Linked DNA regions of Homo sapiens: regions 1 and 3 are each reported to be linked to region 2. The links are microRNA targets in miRTarBase. Many come from high-throughput screens and were not tested one by one. Region 2 holds a microRNA gene; each other region holds the end of a gene's coding sequence.

Region 1 (4,360 bases), not on the chromosome of region 2:
TGAGGCCGGAGGATCACTTGAAACCAGGAGTTTGAGACCATCTTGGGCAACATAGCAAGGCCTCATCTCTACTAAAAATTAAAAATTAGCTAGGTGTGGTGGCATGAGCTTATAGTTCCAGCTACTTGGGAGGCTGAGACTGGAGGATTGTGTGAGCCCAGGAGTTAGAGGCTGCAGTGAGCTGTGATCATGCCATTGCACTCCAGCCTGGGCGACAGAGCAAGACTCTGCCTCAAAAAAAAAAAAAGAAAGAAATCACAGTCCACTAGAAGAAATGGGGAAAATTAAAATAAATAAATAATGTTTAAAAATTAAGTGTCCAGAATAATAGGCAACTCTATTGAGACAGAAAGTAGATGAGTGGTTGCTGGGTCCAGGATGGTATAGAATGGGGGTGGGAAGGAACTACTAATGGGCATAGGGTTTTTTGGGGGGTGATGAGAGTATTTTAAACTTAATGTTGATGGCTGCCCAACTTTCTGAATATACTAAAAACCATTGAATTGTACACTTCATGGCATGTGAGTTAAAACCCAGCAAAGCTATTAGGAGTGCAATGGCACCATCTTGGCTCACTGCAACCTTGACCTCCCGGGTTCAAGCAATTCTCCTGCCTCAGCCTCCTGAGTAGCTGGGATTATAGGTGCTTGTCACCATGCCTGGCTAATTTCTGTATTTTTAGTAGAGACGGGGTTTCACCATGTTCGCCAGGCTGGTCTTGAACTCCTGACTTCAGGTGGTCGACCTGCTTCAGCCTCCCAAAGTGCTGGGATTACAGGCGTGAGCCACCATGCTCAGCCAAAGCTGTTATTTTTTTAAGTATGTATTCCTAGATGTTTTATACTTTTATAGTTATTGTGAATGGAATGATTTTTTTCCTAGATAACTTTTAATGAATAGAAACAGTTCCTGCTTTATCTCCAAATTCTAGAACAGTCACTGGCACACAAGTGCTCAGTGTTTAAGTGACATTGTTTTCCTGCACCCAAAAGTAGAATGCTGCTCCTCATTGGAAGCATGTTACTTTAGCAAAGTGCCACTAAAATGACCATAGTCCATGTGCTCTGATCACTTGTCACAGATGGTGATAAAATTCATTCACAGCTTCCTTTCTAGGCCTGCAGCATTTGGGAGACAAAACTCTGCTAAACCTTTGGAAGAAAAAAGAGACCAGAGGCCATTGGTCCCGAAAAGTGGATGGAAGATAGGGAGGTAGAAGGAATGTTACAGGCTGAGAGGGCAGCTCACACTCAGCTCCAGCCACTTCACCTCGTGCACACACTGGCTGAGGGTTGCCAGATGTTTGAGAAAAGCTAGAAATCCAGACCATTGTTAACCATTGGCAACTATAGGGAACATACAGAAAGCATCTGAACTGGATGTGGTAGAGCTCCCAGATCATGATCTGATTGAGAATGTCCATGAACTTCTGTCCTGATTGCTCAGTGCAGACTGCTGCTTCTTCTGGCAAGACTCCTCTCTTCACATTGACCTGGAGTTGTCACAAAATCTGTTTTTCTCTTGCTACTCCCCTGAGCATGGCACCTTCTGCCAGAGCGCTCCCTTAACTGTGTGGGCAGGCTCTGCTTCACAGCTCCCCGCCCACTCTGCCCAAGCAGAAGTGAGCCCCTCCTGGGCAGAAAGTGCCCGCAATGAGGGCTGAAATGTTTCTATTCCCTGAGTAACCAACCTTTCTCTGTTTCCTTGTCCAGGAAACGGAGGTGGAGCTGTACAACGAATTTCCTGAACCTATCAAACTGGACAAGAATGACCGGGCCAAGGCCTCGGCAGAAAGCTGCAGTTGCTGAGGGGGCAGTGAGAGTTGAGCACAGAGTCCTTCACAAACCAAGAACACACGTAGGCCTTCAACACAATTCCCCTCTCCTCTTCCAAACAAAACATACATTGATCTCTCACATCCAGCTGCCAAAAGAAAACCCCATCAAACACAGTTACACCCCACATATCTCTCACACACACACACACACGCACACACACACACACAGATCTGACGTAATCAAACTCCAGCCCTTGCCCGTGATGGCTCCTTGGGGTCTGCCTGCCCACCCACATGAGCCCGCGAGTATGGCAGCAGGACAAGCCAGCGGTGGAAGTCATTCTGATATGGAGTTGGCATTGGAAGCTTATTCTTTTTGTTCACTGGAGAGAGAGAGAACTGTTTACAGTTAATCTGTGTCTAATTATCTGATTTTTTTTATTGGTCTTGTGGTCTTTTTACCCCCCCTTTCCCCTCCCTCCTTGAAGGCTACCCCTTGGGAAGGCTGGTGCCCCATGCCCCATTACAGGCTCACACCCAGTCTGATCAGGCTGAGTTTTGTATGTATCTATCTGTTAATGCTTGTTACTTTTAACTAATCAGATCTTTTTACAGTATCCATTTATTATGTAATGCTTCTTAGAAAAGAATCTTATAGTACATGTTAATATATGCAACCAATTAAAATGTATAAATTAGTGTAAGAAATTCTTGGATTATGTGTTTAAGTCCTGTAATGCAGGCCTGTAAGGTGGAGGGTTGAACCCTGTTTGGATTGCAGAGTGTTACTCAGAATTGGGAAATCCAGCTAGCGGCAGTATTCTGTACAGTAGACACAAGAATTATGTACGCCTTTTATCAAAGACTTAAGAGCCAAAAAGCTTTTCATCTCTCCAGGGGGAAAACTGTCTAGTTCCCTTCTGTGTCTAAATTTTCCAAAACGTTGATTTGCATAATACAGTGGTATGTGCAATGGATAAATTGCCGTTATTTCAAAAATTAAAATTCTCATTTTCTTTCTTTTTTTTCCCCCCTGCTCCACACTTCAAAACTCCCGTTAGATCAGCATTCTACTACAAGAGTGAAAGGAAAACCCTAACAGATCTGTCCTAGTGATTTTACCTTTGTTCTAGAAGGCGCTCCTTTCAGGGTTGTGGTATTCTTAGGTTAGCGGAGCTTTTTCCTCTTTTCCCCACCCATCTCCCCAATATTGCCCATTATTAATTAACCTCTTTCTTTGGTTGGAACCCTGGCAGTTCTGCTCCCTTCCTAGGATCTGCCCCTGCATTGTAGCTTGCTTAACGGAGCACTTCTCCTTTTTCCAAAGGTCTACATTCTAGGGTGTGGGCTGAGTTCTTCTGTAAAGAGATGAACGCAATGCCAATAAAATTGAACAAGAACAATGATCATCTGCCTTTGCCAGAGTCTTTTTTTCCTTCTTCAAGAGCCTTGGCTCAGTAGAGACCACATGAGCTAATCATAGTCAATGCCTTATCAAGCAAGAGAGCCCTCCATAAATGGGCACGTGTGGTGCTTCAAGGCAGAAAGGCCCTCTCATATCTGGTCCTGTAGTGCCTGTCCCTAGTTTTTTTTTGTTTGTTTTTTTTTCCGGGGGCGGGGGTGGGTGTATTTTAATCACATTGTTGGAGGTTGAGGACCATGGATGGAGAACGCATTGTCCCTTTAGGAGAGCAGCCAGAAACTGCTGGGGACTCTGAGCCATGCATATCCTGTAGGTGTAACTGTAACCTAGTCATGTGTTATGTGTTTTATTTTTAGTTGACCTAGTTGCTAACACTTAGATGTGTAATTCTGCATTTGTCACAGGAGAGGAAGATTTGGCAGCAGAGGCCCTGTATTCCAACATATGTAAGCCCCCACCTGGAATGGAATAGTTGCCACTTAGAAGCAATTTTATTAAAATAGTAGTAGTTCAGGTCGTGAGTCACTTTAGGTTTTGCAGAAGTGCCTCATTGAGTTAGATCTTGAATTCTACTTTGCTACACTTTTCTACATTTCCACTTCTCAGGCTCCTCAGCTGGTTTCTTTCCTCGTGGCTCCTCTTGGCATGTACTTTATGTGTTAAAAATAGCATAGTTTAGAAGTTCAGATGCTGCACAATGTGAGATTATCCACAGTGCAATTCCACCCTGGCTGGGTGGCTTAAATCTTCTCTGGTCCTATATTTTGCTTGGGCCTCATCAGGTGTTTGTCCTCTAGAGGAGCAGAGTTCTCTCCAGCTTGGGGCCCAGTGACTGGGCCACAGGGTGTGGACCCTTGTGTGATGCTCACCTCTGCAAATCAGGCATCTATTCCTCTGATTGTGTTCCACTGGTCTTGACCTTGTATGTGACATTAAAATGGACCTTGACTTCTGACCTGCTTGACCTTCATCCTAAAACTGATGATCATCCTGATATTAACCTGCTTTAGCTTGAGATGAATGTAATCTTTAATTGACTGATTTCAACCATTGTCCTTATCATAACTTACCCTAATTTTAATGGCTTTGGCTTTGAACTGGCTTTGACTTTACCCTAAACACGTTCACTGCTGAATGACCTTGACTCTGACCCACCTCCT
Region 2 (3,000 bases):
AGAGGCCAGGGCTGCCCACTGGGAGCCTGGTCCCAGCATAGGGGCGGCGGAGGGCCCCAGACCACTGAAGCTCCTGCGCCGCGGGTGCGTGAGGCCCCCCCGAGAGCACGCCCCCCTCGAGGCCTAGTCGAGCAGGGATGGCTCGGCTGGGCGGATAATGGTGGGCCGGCTGGGCGCAGCAGGGGGTCTTCTGCTGCAAAGAGAATAAAGACAGGTGGGGAGGGGGAGACGGCAGTGAGGCCGGGAGCAAGAGGCAGGCCTGGGTTGAGGACCCAGCCCCCACCCACACACCACCCCAGGGTGTTCCCAGGCTGACCTCCGCAAGCCACCAGGGTGTCGGGCAGGAGTGCCAAACCTAGGCATCAACTCGCCTGCTGTTTGACCCTCAGTGAGCCCCCTGCCCTCCCTGGGCCTCAGCTTCCCCACCGGAGAAGTGGGGAGAATAAAGCCTGGCCCACGGTAGGTTGAGGCAGGCAGGAGCAGGAAGGAGAAGAAGGTAAACAGTGGGAGGAGGTGCCCAGTGTGAGGGTTCCCCAGCTGCCTGGTGGCACACCCCAGTAGGCAGAGGGCAAGCTGGGAGCCCCGGAGTCACCAGGGCTCCGCTACTCTGTGACACTGAACAAGCCTCTTGGCCTCTCTGGGCCTGTTTCCTCGCAAGCCAAATAGGGATGAGGACGATTCCTCCACTCCAGCAGCTGGGCACGTAGTGAGAGCTCACTGGGAGGAAGTGAGACAGGAGGAGAGACCCCAGGGTGCAGGCAGTTGGGGTGGAGGGCAGGGGGTTGGCCTTACCTGGGCACTCCTGGGGGAATCCCTGGGGGGATCCGAACTGGCCGAGATGGGATCTGAGGCGGGGCTGGGAAGAGGTCACTGTTGGCAAACACGCTCTGGGGTCCAGGCCGGGATGGGATTGGGGGCGCCGAGAAGGAGGCTGCTGCCCCCACGGGAACAGGAATCAGGGGGGGCCCTGGAGTGGGGCCCCTCACTGCTGGGGGCCGGCCAGGGGGGTGTATGCTGGACACCGGTCGGCGCTGTGGAGTGGGGCTGTGAGGAAGGAGAGGGTGTGAGCTACAGATACAGATGGAGTAGGAGCCCCCGCCATGCCACTGTGGCTGCCAGAACCTGAGGTGGGGGCTGGCTATGGGGACAGCGCAGGCGCAGTGGGATCCTCCCACCCCAACCTGAGCGCCAGTCCCACCTTCCCTTGCCCTCGGCCCCCTCAGGCACTTCCCACTCACAGGGCCCCCTCAGGCCTTGGGCCTGGGATCCACCCTCACAGCCAAAGACACTTCCAGAGTCCTCCAGATCAAGCCCTAATATCTCTAGGGGCCGTGGAACCTGCAAGCCCTGTCCAGACATCCAGATTCCCTCCTGGGCCTCAGTCCCTGCCACCTGCAGGCCTGGGTGCGATATCCTCCCCTTAAGGAACTCCATGGCTCCCCCAGGGCTCTGCAAGGCAGCCCCCTCTGAGGTTCCCTGCCCGACGGCCTCAATGGACAACTCAGGGGCGGCAGCAGCTCTGGCCACGCCTTGCGTTTGCCCCTCCAGAGCCTCCCATCTGCCCTTCTCTGTGCTCCAGGAGGCTCATCTCTCTCCTGTGGCTGCTGCCCCTCCAGCCTCTTACCCCAGCTTCCATTTGGGCTGTGCCAATGGAAGGCACCAGCAGAGGGCAGGCGGGGTATTTATTCACAGGGTCCTGCCCTAGAGCTGTAGGGCTGGCTCGCCCCCATACCCCTTCTCTCCCTCCTCCGGCCTCAGCAGGGCAGCAGCTCCCACAGTGCCCAGCCCTGGGTGCCACCCTTGGGCTGTGTCCTGTTTCCTGCCAGGACCCTGCAGGACACACAGGGAGGGCAGGAACCTGCAGGCCGAATGCTTGAGGGTAGGGGAACCAGGCTTCCGGACCTGTGGCTGCTGGCGCTCTGGAGCCAGGTGTCATCGACAGGCGGGGGTACAGGCGTGGACACAGTGCTGGTGCTGATGTCACCGATGATGTTGAGCGCCTCCTTGAGGGCATGGTACATGCGCAGCATGTCGTCCCGCCGCTGTGCCTGGTCAGCCGACTCCTCCATGAGGCTGCTCTGGTCTGCCGAGGAGTATAGGTAGGCCAGCAGCTCGTGGTGGATGAAGGCCTTCGTCTGCGGGCAGGGGTTGGGGAGGGTCAGGCTTGTGTATCACCCCAACCCAGAACCCACAGTGACTGCTGGAAAAACATCTCTCACAGGGCGGGGCCACCCCCAGACTTTTTTGAAAAAGAGTCTTGCTCTGTCACCCAGGCTGGAGTACAGTGGCTCAATTTCAGCTCACTGCAACCTCCGCCTCCCGGGTTCAAGTAATTATCCTGCCTCAGCCTCCCAAGTAGCTAGGACGACAGGCACGTTGACACCATGCTTGGCTAAGTTTTGTAATTTTTTTAGAGATAGGGTTCCACCATGTGGCCCAGGCTGGTTATGAGATTCTTATTCAACTTATTTCTAGTATCTTGCCTCTTCCATTGATGTCTTTTCTCCTGTTTTAGCTTATTTATTTATTTCCTTAACCTTGGCAGAATAATCCTGTTATATCTTTTTTGTTTTTGCTTTTTTTTTTTTGAGACAGTCTCACTGTCGCCCAGGTTGGAGTGCAGTGGTGCAATCTCAGCTCACTGCAACCTCCGCCTCCCGGGTTTATGCCATTCTCCTGCCTCAGTCTCCCAAGTAGCTGGGACTACAGGCGCCTGCCACCACGCCCAGCTTATTTTTTGTATTTTTAGTAGAGACAGGGTTTCACCCTGTTAGCCAGGATGGTCTCGATCTCCTGACCTTATGATCCGCCTGCCTCAGCCTCCCAAAGTGCTGGGATTACAGGCGTGAGCCACCGCGCCCAGCCAATCCTGTTATATCTTTATTTTTTTGTGACAGAGTCTCACTCTGTCACCCAGGCTGCAGTGCAATCTTGGCTCACTGCAACCTGCGTCTCCTGGGTCCAAGCAATTCTTGTGCCTCAACCTCCCAAGTAGCTGGG
Region 3 (4,360 bases), not on the chromosome of region 2:
TATTTTGTTTCTTTAAAATTGGTATTGGTAAATAAGGATTCTAGAAGAAAATTCCTTCATGTGACTTGGGTCTGGATATGAAGCAATGTTACTGTCACAGAGAGTAACGTGCCTTTCTTCTGAAAAGACCATTGAATATTACACTCCAGATTTGGAAACTTCCTTTTTGCAGCAAGCGTATGTAACTAGATTCACTCTGGCAGAATGAGAAGAACCATTTAGATATACTGAAAAATGAAATAAAATACCCACACACATAGAAAGGAGGTATATGGGAATATAAATGTCAAGTTACATCTGACTTGAGCTCAGCAGAATAAACAAAACTGTGAATCATTAAGAGGATGCTTGTGAAGACATGCTTACTTTTATCTTTGCTTGGGTGAGTTTGAAAGGCAAAGGAAGATAACCAAACCAGTTCCCTGTTGGTTGGGGGCCATTCTTAACGTGTACTGAACTGAACAAGCAGCAAAATAGGTGGAAGGTGATTTGAATCACTCCAAAGTCAGGCTTGGAGTCCCAAGTCTGACCTGGAAAATGGACTCTAGCTCTGCCTCTTATCCCACACATGTGTGTGTCTGTGTGAACATGTGTGTGTGTTGGTGGTTTGTTTTGTTTTGTTTTCCTCTTATGTACTTGGGAAGCAGTTGCTGAGGGTCTTGCGGAGCTCTGTTTCCTCCAGTGTAGCATAGCAGCAGGTGCAGGGGTCCAAAGCTATGGTGGCAAAATGAAGAATGAAAGGAATAAATTGCACACTATCATTTCAACATGTAACCCAGTGAATCAAACTGAAGGTAGGATGTCTATATACCCTTCATTTCAGGGGCCCCTAGAGAATATACCTTAGCTTTCCCTCTTCCGGCATCCTGGAAAGTGGATACCTGTGGCCTTCCTTTCACTTTGAAAGCTTACACCCTCATTTTGACTACAACTAATACTAAAAGCTTGGCATCTTGCTTGAGATTAGTGTTTGCTATGCCAAACACCTTCTCCTCTTTCTATTGAAAGCAAAACATAGGAAAATAATTTGAAATACTTTTAAGGCATCTTAAAAACATGACTTTTTCATCTTATGGAAAAGCAGACCAATTTTGCTTTTTTTTCCCAACTTGTTCTCCAGACTGTGCCAATAAAATGTGTTCATAGCAGGAAAATTTGGAAAATACAGAAAAGCACTATGAAGAAAACAAAATGTACCCAAAATCCCATCACTCAGATAACATCACTGTTAATGTTTTGATATGTATTTCCAGTCTTTTCTATTGTGTTAATTTTTCATTTTGTTTTTGAATAAATAACTTTCAGGAAAGAAATTGAGCCTTTTCTGCCACCTCTGAAGCCTGATTACTGTGTGAAGCAGGCCATGAAGGCCATCCTCACTGACCAGCCCATGATCTGCACTCCCCGCCTCATGTACATCGTGACCTTCATGAAGAGGTAACTGGGAGGGGTTCCCTCACTGACTGGGTCTCTCCATGCCTGCCCGATGTCTTAATTGAAACTTCAAGTTTGCTAACAGCTGTGACTTCCCTTTTTCAGCATCCTACCATTTGAAGCAGTTGTGTGCATGTATCGGTTCCTAGGAGCGGACAAGTGTATGTACCCCTTTATTGCTCAAAGAAAGCAAGCCACAAACAATAATGAAGCAAAAAATGGAATCTAAGAATCTTTTTGTATGGAATATTACTTCTATCAGAAGATGATCAAGATGTTTCAGTCCAGTGCACATCAGCATTGCTGACATTTTATGGATTCTAAACTTGTGTTGTTTCTTTTTTAAATCAACTTTTTAAAAAAATAAAGTGTAAATTAACCGACTAGAGTACTTGGAAAATGTGATCAGTACAAGTGAACTTAGGTTGTTGCCAACAGGGTCCTTTTAGGCAGAACCCAGAAACCAGTCAAATCTGTAGAGAAGCAGTGTGACATCTTCAGGTTACCATTATTTTTTAATGAGCAGGAAGTCTAGAAATGATAACTAGACTGTATGTTTCATGTGTGTGATTTTTCAGAATTCCCAGAGTTTACTCATTCTTGTTATTAAACTCTAGCCAGTTGACATCTTCGCAATTTCAAGGACTGATAGTGCTGTATTTTCTCACGTTTTCTAAGTTTCCGTTTTGCAAGGCCTAGGTGACTTTTTCATGGTGTTTGTATGTTTAGCTCTTTTGAAAAGGAATTTTGAAATCTCCATCAACTGAAGTAAATGATGTCTGAGTGTTACAGTAAAGGTGACCAAGTCTCTTTCTTAAAGTCACAATGACTAAAGTATTAGTTGAATTTTTTTTTTTTTTTTTTTGATGGAGTCTCGCTCTGTCACCAGGCTGGAGTGCAGTAGCACAATCACGGCTCACTGCAATCTCTGCCTCCCAGTTTCAAGTGATTCTGCTGTCTCAGCCTCCCAAGTAGCTGGGACTACAGGCATGCGCCACCACGCCCAGCTAATTTTTGTATTTTTAGTAGAGACGGGGTTTCACCATGTTGGTCAGGATGGTCTCCATCTCTTGACATTGTGATCCACCTGCCTCGGCCTCCCAAAGTGCTGGGATTACAGGCATGAGCCACTGCACCCAGCCTTGAATTTTTAATTTTATCTCTGATATACTTCATTAAGTGTCTGGAGACCTAATTATCCTAAAAGATCATACATTTTCTACCTATGAATTTTGCTGCATACAGAAAGTGCCCTTTCCTCAGGAAGTTGCTGTGTTTCATTTCTTTGGATGGACTCTTATCTAGAATACATAGCAGCTCTGCAAAGGAACAGTTTTTAAAAATGGGAACTTCTACATTGAAAAGTCCCCATTTTTGTGCCAACTATGATTAGTGAGAGGAAGAAATCTTATTCTATGGCATATGTATGGAAGGGTGTAAAGATTCTTTTGAAAGGTTTATTCACATTGTAGAACAGCAAATGACATTTTTACAGTATTTTTTTGTAAAGCAAACTATTTTGTGCCTTGAATTTGGTATATGTGTATTAGTGAAACATTGTAAAGGTGAACTTCTACCTCTGTATCTAAATGTATACCATCCACTTGTAAATGACTATAAACTATTATGTGATTGCTTTTTTTTTTAGAATGTCTTGTTTAAATAGTGGCCAATGTTTAAGGCTGTTAAAATAAGCCAACTTTTACTAATTGGGGAGTTTTATAAATGACTGATTAAATTTAAAGAATTAACTTACATGCAATTGTGTGATTATTAGTTATCAGCAGTGTTGTAAGGAAAATTATTGTGTTTTTTTTTATGATCATTATCCCACTTTAGGTAAAGAAAAATATTGGAATGGAATAGTGTTGGGAAACAGACATTAACAACCTAGGGTGCCTGCACTCAAATAGCCGATGTTACTGTCCCTAGATTAGAGACTTGATTAAGGGCTTGTTTGTACCAAAAGTGGGGAAACAATGCCATGACCTGTGTTTTAGTTTGGCTGCACCACAGATCAAATCTGCACTGTGTCTACATATAGGAAAGGTCCTGGTGTGTGCTAATGTTCCCAATGCAGGACTTGAGGAAGAGCTCTGTTATATGTTTCCATTTCTCTTTATCAAAGATAACCAAACCTTATGGCCCTTATAACAATGGAGGCACTGGCTGCCTCTTAATTTTCAATCATGGACCTAAAGAAGTACTCTGAAGGGTCTCAACAATGCCAGGTGGGGACAGATATACTCAGAGATTATCCAGGTCTGCCTCCCAGCGAGCCTGGAGTACACCAGACCCTCCTAGAGAAATCTGTTATAATTTAACAACCCACTTATCCACCTTAAAACTGAGGAAAGTCGTCTTTACATCTAATTTTATTCTTGTGTGTTATAACTTAAACCTATTTCTATTTTTGTTTGTTATTGCCCTTATAAGGGTGTCCATCTCCAAGTTCAATAAACTAATTCATTTAACTTTTTTGTAGAAGTCTTTCATTCCCATGTCCCAGCCCAGTTCAATCACTTCTGTGGCTCTTCCTTGAATGTTGTCCATATTCTCCCTCCCATCTTTAGCTGTGGAGTTTGGAAAGGGATACAGTTAATGCAGGTTTAGAACTATGGAATTCCTACAAGTTGCATTTCTTCATCCCAATGTCACGTTCTTATTAATGCTACATTGCTGATTGTGTGCATTATTGTTTCTAAACATGAAATCTCTTCTAGACAAGTCTGCCTGTTTGTGTTGATCACTTATGTAATTGCCAAGGTTGCTTTTCTGGCTGGTTATTTATCTACACCTGCCCCCACCCCTTAACATGAATGCTGACTTTGAATATGTTCTCTTTTTTGTCATCTGGCCCATTCATGTGAATGTTCAGGGCCACTGCACTCAAGGCTGATCCCCTAAGGAGCACCACCTCTGTCTG

What was found. Region 2 holds the annotated microRNA hsa-miR-6793-5p (UGUGGGUUCUGGGUUGGGGUGA, at 2,172-2,193, opposite strand). A microRNA usually pairs through its seed, bases 2 to 8, with sites in the 3' UTR of a target mRNA and lowers its output. Matches are read on the target gene's strand: a 7mer-m8 pairs with bases 2 to 8, a 7mer-A1 pairs with bases 2 to 7 and ends in A, and an 8mer does both.
Region 1: miRTarBase lists RAB7A as a target of hsa-miR-6793-5p. Seed matches in the 3' UTR shown: 7mer-A1 at 2,066-2,072.
Region 3: the mRNA of RDH10 is a reported target of hsa-miR-6793-5p. Seed matches in the 3' UTR shown: 7mer-m8 at 3,760-3,766.

The regions. Positions count from the first base shown.
Region 1 is chr3:128,811,615-128,815,974 of GRCh38, forward strand. RAB7A (RAB7A, member RAS oncogene family) reads left to right here. Exons shown (of 6, transcript NM_004637.6): 6 at 1,713-3,184. The coding sequence ends at 1,808. Among named protein-coding and RNA genes, the nearest start is that of MIR12124, 33 kb to the right of the region's middle. RefSeq lists an enhancer at 1,532-1,826.
Region 2 is chr19:10,828,171-10,831,170 of GRCh38, reverse strand. It overlaps MIR6793 (microRNA 6793), which reads right to left and starts at 2,198; the gene lies at 2,136-2,198. DNM2 (dynamin 2) reads right to left here. Exons shown (of 21, transcript NM_001005361.3): 19 at 1,903-2,135; 20 at 793-1,044; 21 at 1-193. The coding sequence ends at 124.
Region 3 is chr8:73,321,374-73,325,733 of GRCh38, forward strand. It overlaps RDH10 (retinol dehydrogenase 10), which reads left to right. Exons shown (of 6, transcript NM_172037.5): 5 at 1,306-1,437; 6 at 1,540-3,908. The coding sequence ends at 1,663. RDH10-AS1 (RDH10 antisense RNA 1) reads right to left here. Exons shown (of 6, transcript NR_125388.1): 4 at 367-714. Among named protein-coding and RNA genes, the nearest start is that of RDH10, 29 kb to the left of the region's middle.